2 linked regions of the Homo sapiens genome follow. The protein of the gene in region 1 purifies or fractionates together with the protein of each later gene. This does not show direct contact. Each region holds a gene or a part of one and is shown on either strand. Other genes may lie near its edges.

The links. Proteins that work in one complex are often made in the same cells at the same time.
Region 2: the proteins of MTM1 (region 1) and SCO1 purify together in Homo sapiens (affinity purification with mass spectrometry, with the first as the bait; one large-scale study listed by BioGRID). This does not show direct contact.

Annotation. Positions count from the first base shown.
Region 1 is NC_000023.11:150,637,968-150,641,620, forward strand, and holds part of MTM1 (myotubularin), read left to right. Parts: exon of another isoform or gene 1-794; intron 795-975; coding exon 976-1,059; intron 1,060-3,301; coding exon 3,302-3,451; intron 3,452-3,653. UniProt on the Homo sapiens protein: Lipid phosphatase which dephosphorylates phosphatidylinositol 3-monophosphate (PI3P) and phosphatidylinositol 3,5-bisphosphate (PI(3,5)P2). Has also been shown to dephosphorylate phosphotyrosine- and phosphoserine-containing peptides.
Region 2 is NC_000017.11:10,683,922-10,687,574, reverse strand, and holds part of SCO1 (protein SCO1 homolog, mitochondrial), read left to right. Parts: intron 1-732; coding exon 733-848; intron 849-3,653. UniProt on the Homo sapiens protein: Copper metallochaperone essential for the maturation of cytochrome c oxidase subunit II (MT-CO2/COX2). Not required for the synthesis of MT-CO2/COX2 but plays a crucial role in stabilizing MT-CO2/COX2 during its subsequent maturation.

The DNA.
Region 1 (3,653 bases):
ATCTGACCTATGACACTGTCACTCTGACTTGAGAAGTACAAAGATGAAAGCAGGGGAGCAGTTAGGTTTTTATAATCAACCAAGTAAGAGATGATGGTGGCTTGGACCTGGGTGGTAGCCACGTGGTGACAAAGATGAATCCAAGGTTTTCAGCTCAATCAGCTGGAAGTCATGTACTGAAATGGGGAGACTGTGGGAAGAGCAGGACTGGGTAGGGGGAGCCAAGAGTGTTTGGCTTTGGTTGTGTTAACTTGAGAGTTCTTCAGATGCCTCTTAGGCAGTCTGGTGGGGTGGTAGAGTGGACACTTGGATAGCCAAGTCTGGAATTCAGAGGGGATGCTGGAGAATGATAGGTCCTTACTAGTCACTAGAGTATGGATGGTATTTGAAGCTATCAAATGTATCAACAGCACGTTGAGGGTGAGTATATATAGAGAAGAGGTGAGAGGTCTGAGTCCTGCCATTTCACAGAAACCAGGGCATTGATTCAGAATTCACAGAGAACAGTTAGCTCAGAGTTTTCTTAATATCCTATCTTTTTAAAAAATAAACATGTCATTGTTCCCTTTTGAGACAGTTGCACCGTTTAACAATAATTCCTGAATTTTATTTTTCTTCCTTTCCTTCTTTCTTTTTAGTGGCTTGTACCTGATCAATTGCTAATACTGTTTAAAATTGATAGGCACTTTTTGGTCTGGTAATCTGATTTTTTTGTGGAACATCATTAAAAGAACAATTGAGAGATTTATAGCCATAGAAAATTGAGGCTTCTATTACTCAAGATAGAAGTTAGCGTAAGTCTGATCTGAGTTTTCCACTGTTTTTTTTTGTTGTTGTTGTTATAAGCCTTGGTGTGGGTTGTAATTTCATGGTCGGCAAATCTGGTGAAATTTATTTTGCGAGAAATCAAAAGATGTACTATAATAGTAGACTGTTCCTTCACGCTGAACTTTATTTATTTTTTGCCTTTTCTAGCCATTATTTGCATTTTTAAATGAAGAAAAGTTTAACGTGGATGGATGGACAGTTTACAATCCAGTGGAAGAATACAGGAGGCAGGTAAGATGTTAGATGCTATTGTCTGGTATGTGATGAACCTGAAACATGCATTATGACAGTATGTCATCAGCCATGCTTTCTGAAAATCAGCGACATCCTTGCTAAATATCTTTTCAATGGTGGTGATATTATCCACATTTTGTACAATATATCTCATTCTATCTATTACTGTATAACTTATAAGCTCATTCCATTGCCATATGCAAGCTGCATCGAAGACTGGGTCACTAAATCCTATTTCCTTCCCTATATGAAGAGCATCAATTCTGTGTTGTTTATGAAATGAATTAAATACTTAGGATTTAGAAAAGTCAAACATTTTAGAAGTTACACTTTAGGACTTGATATTGCTATGTATATGCATGTTTGGGAGCTTAACTATTACCTGCAGTTAGATTTAAATTATATTCATTTCAGTTTGCAGATTCAAATGAATTAGAACTGTTTTCCTGTAGTGATGTCTTTTTCAAGGAAGCTTTGATAAGTGTACATTATAATTGTCTTTACTGTTCTCTTATATGAATGTCACCTACATGCATGTTTATTTGCTATAATAAAGGCAAGAGGCTTGGTCTCATATTGCTGTTCAGGAACAAAAGTCTCTTGCAGTATTTTTGTTAAGGGAATTCTGTGCATAATATGTAACAAGAGCCACAGTTTGACCTCTGGTATAACCAAATCTGTAGGCAGCTAGGAGTTGTGTGATGGGATTATTCACAATTCTTGTTCTACAAAGCTCTTAAGATAATTGAAAAGTTTTGTTGAATGAGATTTGAGAATCAGATCAAACCCATTTGCTTTATATGAAAAGGTAGTGAATATAAAGTAAAATCGTAGAACCCTAGACTTGAGAAGAACCATCTAGTCACCACCTTCACCATGAAAAACCTGGATTGGTTTCCTTTTTTAGTCTTAATCAACGGTTTGCATATTCATGAACAGATTTGACGCTCTGGAATTTGGGTGCAGGAGTTTAGCTTTAGAACATATGTGACATAGTATATCCTGTTGCTTCCATAAGTCACGTTTAGACTGTTGAGTTTTCTAAGGCTTTGCACTACTCCCATTTTAATGGCCTCAGTTCTGGACTAGCTACTGAGGCGGAAGAAGGACCATGAAAACATTTTGCATGTTTTGGAGACCTCTGTAAATGATGTATTAAAATATTTTTACCTTCTTTTTGAAGTATTACTGATAACATTAAGACTTTTTTTTAGTTCAAAGCTTCTAGCTTGAAACAAAACAGTTCCTGTTTTTAAGATTGCATGCATATATGAACTGTTGAAGGTATTTTGTTCTAGACTGCCATTATATTCAATCTTTTTTTCTTATAACTTTCTGATGGGACTTATAACTGTCTAATTGGACTCAGCATCAGACTCAACATCTGTTTGGTCCGTGGTCTCTAGGGCCAGACCTAAAGAAAAGGTACAATGTCTGTCCCCAAAGCAAACACCCACATAGCTCACTTTTGTGTGTGTATCTGTGCATTTGTGAGAATGGGGAGAGAATATTCCACCACCTCTGGATCTTTTCCATACTAAATACAATTTTGTGGGGGAGATGATAGGATGGGAGGTGTCTTCTGTGTCTCCCTGTCACATTAGCAGTCTGCTTAAAATGCAAATGACTGTATTTCTCACACAAACTATAGGGCAATCATCGATTCCGAACAACTTGATTGAAAAAAAACTCATCGGAGGTGGCGAAATGAGCCTCCCCAGAGGGATCTTCCTTTACTTCCCCTCATGATTTTCTTCATGAGCTCAGCCTCTTTCCACTTTGGAGCAGACTGAAGCATTCACTCTATTTTGAGCAGGGAGAGGAAGTTGCCTGATCTCTTTTCTACCCTCAGTTAGAGCCAGATTAAGATGAAGCAGGGTATTTTTTTAGGGGATGGGAGGGGTGCATGGGCGGGGGATGAACTTGGGTTTATCTGTGTGGTACAGGTAGTAAAGAATATGTGGACACAAAATAAAGGAAGACGAATTCCTTTGAATTCAAGAGAATCTGTATTTACAAAGTATAGTTTAGAACTGTAAAAACCACCAGTGTTTTGTCTTGTGTTCTTACGTTGTCTGGATTATTGATTTGGCACCCTTATTATAAATAGGTAGACCGTCATCACCCTGTGGTCAAAGAGGCATGTGCACATATTGCTAGAAGGAAGAAAAGAGGCCCAAGGCCAAATCCAGAGATGAGGTCAAGCAATACTGACTTGAATTTCTTTTTTTCCTCACAGGGCTTGCCCAATCACCATTGGAGAATAACTTTTATTAATAAGTGCTATGAGCTCTGTGACACTTACCCTGCTCTTTTGGTGGTTCCGTATCGTGCCTCAGATGATGACCTCCGGAGAGTTGCAACTTTTAGGTCCCGAAATCGAATTCCAGTGAGTACTGCAATTAACGTTTCTCTTGAAGAGCACCTTTTAGTCCATAAGAATGGTAGTCATATAACTTAGAGAAACGGTCCTTTTGGAATTCTATCCCAAAAAATACTTACTAAGTGCTTTGTGAGTACAAAGTACCATACCAGACTGGAGAAGAAGTGTGCCGTCACCTGCCTTCTAGGAGCTTGCAACTAAGGATCAA
Region 2 (3,653 bases), on another chromosome or scaffold:
AGAATGATGAGTTCATCCAAGGAACAAAAATTGGCTTCTGTACCTTTAGAAAAAGGAACTGCTGTTAAATGTTGGGCTGTCATTTCAGTAGTTTGATGAATCCAGTTGTTTTAAGTGACCTCTACCGGTTCACTTACATGAATTCCAAAAACTTAATAGCAGATACACGCTGTGAATGATTTGCCCTTATTTCAGAACTTTGTTAAGATTGCGTTTTGGGGATGACTAGTATTAATTAACCAGTTTTTTTAAATCAGAAGTAAAGAGTAGAACTTGATACCAGTGTTGAAATTATTTGCAGGAAAATAAGACACAGGTATTTTGACCTGATATGAACTTAGTTATGAAGCAAATTTTTTTCCCCATATGATGCCATGAAAAGTTATAGTATTTAATTTATGATAATAATTTTAAGCTTTAGTATATCTGAGAACTACATGTGACTACTCCTTAAAAATCAATTTAAAATGTGATACAAGTGATTAGAAAATATTCCCTCCAGGTCTTTACTAGATAGTCATAAAAAGATTTGACTTATATATTACAAAGGAGAATTTTCATTTGTTCTTTGTGAATTTCTTCTCCTTTTCCTTTGAATCGTGAAGAAATGTTTGGAGACTCACAGGAAGAAAGTGGCAGTAGAGCTGCTTTACAACTGATACATTTTTTGAAGTAGAGATGGTTGTTTTACTGGCTTCTCATTTTTCACTGTCTCTCTCATTTTTTATTTAGAATTTTCTCCCAAACTGGTTGGCTTGACTGGCACGAGAGAAGAGGTCGATCAAGTGGCCAGAGCATACAGAGTGTATTACAGCCCTGGCCCCAAGGACGAAGATGAAGACTACATAGTGAGTAAATGTTCCAGTTTTAACCCATGGACCAGCTCCCAGATCCCAAATAGTCATAAGGCTTTCAATGACTGACTAGCTTCTGAGAAGAGAGAATACCTAAGATTATTGCAAAGTCCTTAGGAATTTTTTTTTTTTTTTTTTTGAGATGGAGTCTCATTCTGTCATCCAGGCTGGAGTGCAGTGGCACAATCTTCGCTCACTGCAACCTCCGCCTCCCAGATTCAAGCAATTCTCCTATGTCAGCCTCCCGAGTAGCTGGGATTACAGGTGCGCGCCACCACACCTGGCTACTTTTTTATATTTTTTGGTAGAGACGGGGTTTCACCACGTTGGCCAGGCTGGTCTCGAACTCCTGACCTTACCCGCCTCAGCCTCCCAAAGTACTGGGATTACAGACGTGAGCCACCGCATCCAGCCTCCTTAGGAATTTTGAATATTTGAAAGGATAATAGAAGCATGTTTTTTACTTTTTATTTATTTTCGAGACGGAGTCTCACTCCGTCAGCCAGGCTGGAGTGCAGTGGTGCGATCTTGGCTCACTTCGACCTCCGCCTCCCGGATTCAAGCAATTCTCCTCCCTCAGCCTCTCGCGTAGCTGGGATTACAGGCATGTGCTCCCACGCCTGGCTAGTTTTTGTATTTTTAGTAGAGAAGGAGTTTTGCCATGTTGGCCAGGCGAGGCCAGGGGGTCTCGAATTCCTGACCTCAGGTGGTCTGCCCTGCCCACCTCAGCCTCCCAAAGTGCTGGGATTACAGGCCTGAGCCACTGCGCCCAGCCAGAAGCAGTTTTTTAAAAGATGATTGTTTGATTTATATTCACTGTTCTCATAATTCAATTGCCTGTTTTTCTCTTATAGTGGCATATAGGATTTTAGGGCAGTTTAAAACCAGATACTTGGGTGCCATGTTGGAAATAAAGAGAAGCCATCATTTGGAACAACACTTATTTTAAAAAGATTGTGTTGGTTCTCACTGTGTCCCCAGTAGAGGTATCAGAAATTGCTCTTCTGGAGAACCAGTTTTAGGCCATGGAGAACTGCATTTTTAGGTTGAATGAGAATTCTGAAAAGCAAAAGATGAAAGGTTTATTTGCCCATTGACTATATGCCTTGGACAGTTAGGCGTTAAATATGTGCTTTTTAATGATAAGGAACAGAAATTCTGTTGTACTTGTGTAGCTCTTAAATTAACTATCTTCATATTCATCAGCACTGCCCCAGAAGCCTTAAGGTCATGCCCAAGTTACTGTGTTTCTTTTCTTGTCAGTGGTTTCACAGTGAAGCACCAAAAGGCATTAGCACCACCACTATCCACCAATTTTCCTCTCAATTTGGACATTTTTCTCCTATCATATGAAGAGTCGGCGTTGTATTTTAGCATTATTTCAGTATTTTTCTTAGTTGTCATACTCTGTTTTTTCTATAATATTGTTTGGGCAGAGTAATCCTAAGAGCCTTTCTAGCTGTGAAGCTGTCTTTGTAGAAAGAAAGATGGCCAAGACCCTGAGTCACTGATCCAGCAGCTCCCCATGGCCCATCCCAAGAGTTGAGATGCAGAGGGGATGGGATGTCTCACTGCAGTGCTTTGTCTCAACAGCCAACTATGATTTCTTTGTCCCTTTGAACCTGGAACGTGTGTGCCCCTGGAGCCTACAGCCTGAATTAAAAGCAAGGTTCTGGCCTGTTTGCCTTAATTAAGCCTACACAGTAATCCTGTCTTCCAGATGTGGTGCCTCGTAGAATTAGGGAAACTTGGATTCCTTGGAGTAAAAGATGAGAAAAATGAGCACTTTTCTTTAAGCCTTAATTGTAAGGAAAGTAGAGGGACCCTCCTCTGTTTTCCTCTTGCTGCTTCTCTAGCAGAATGAGAGAAGAGCAGAGAGCCACAGTGGCCAAAAGAGGAAACCATAGGAAAAGGACTTTCCGGACTTCTGTCTTTATAGAGAGTTGTATTAACTGGTTTTGAGTTTATCCGATGATGACAGCAGGAATAGATGAGCTCATCAGTCTGATTTCCAGCATTAAATGAGTTATATTAAATTGTTTAAATGTATACAGTCCTAAACTAGGTAACACTCCATAGTCTTGATGCTTAGAACTCATAACTCAGAGTCAGAAAGTCAAATCAGAAAGCAGTTGTACAAATAAACCCAAACAGCCTGCAAAACTTAAATTGAAAACATTCAGTTACATTGACAAGAGATTTTGCTGAAACCAAAGTGCTGCTCAGGGCAAGAAGGGAGGGGGTTTTGGTCAGACTGCTATCACATACCCAACTCTACTCAACTGCCCCTCTGCATTTTCTATTTAAAATACTTTGAAACCTTTAATCGTGTAGCCTGCCTTGCCTGGTTAGTGTTGATTTGGCAAGAATGTATCATATTCATGTCTGCCTGTAACAGCAGTGGGCAGCTAGGTGCCAGTGAGATCATGGAGCAAACACAAGCCTGGGCACTGAAATTTATACTCACAACACAGATAATCCAGAATATGGATATTAATGTTTTTAATTACAAATGAAAACAAAAATATGTAAGTCTTATGGAAACTTCTTGGACCTTGTAGAATGTATCTTTGGCCCCATTTTGAGAAATACTGGCCTACTGCCATAAGAATTTGACTTTTGATGAGATTCGATGAGGAATTCATGCTGTACATTTGCTAAATCATCCAATAGGGGGAGACATTCTTCAGCTTCTTAGGTTTTTCATTAGTATGACTTCAGTCCCTTGAGGTCACAGATTTTCATCCATAGGATGGTTTGGGAAACTTCTGTTATCATTTAAGGACCTGCAGGAAGTAA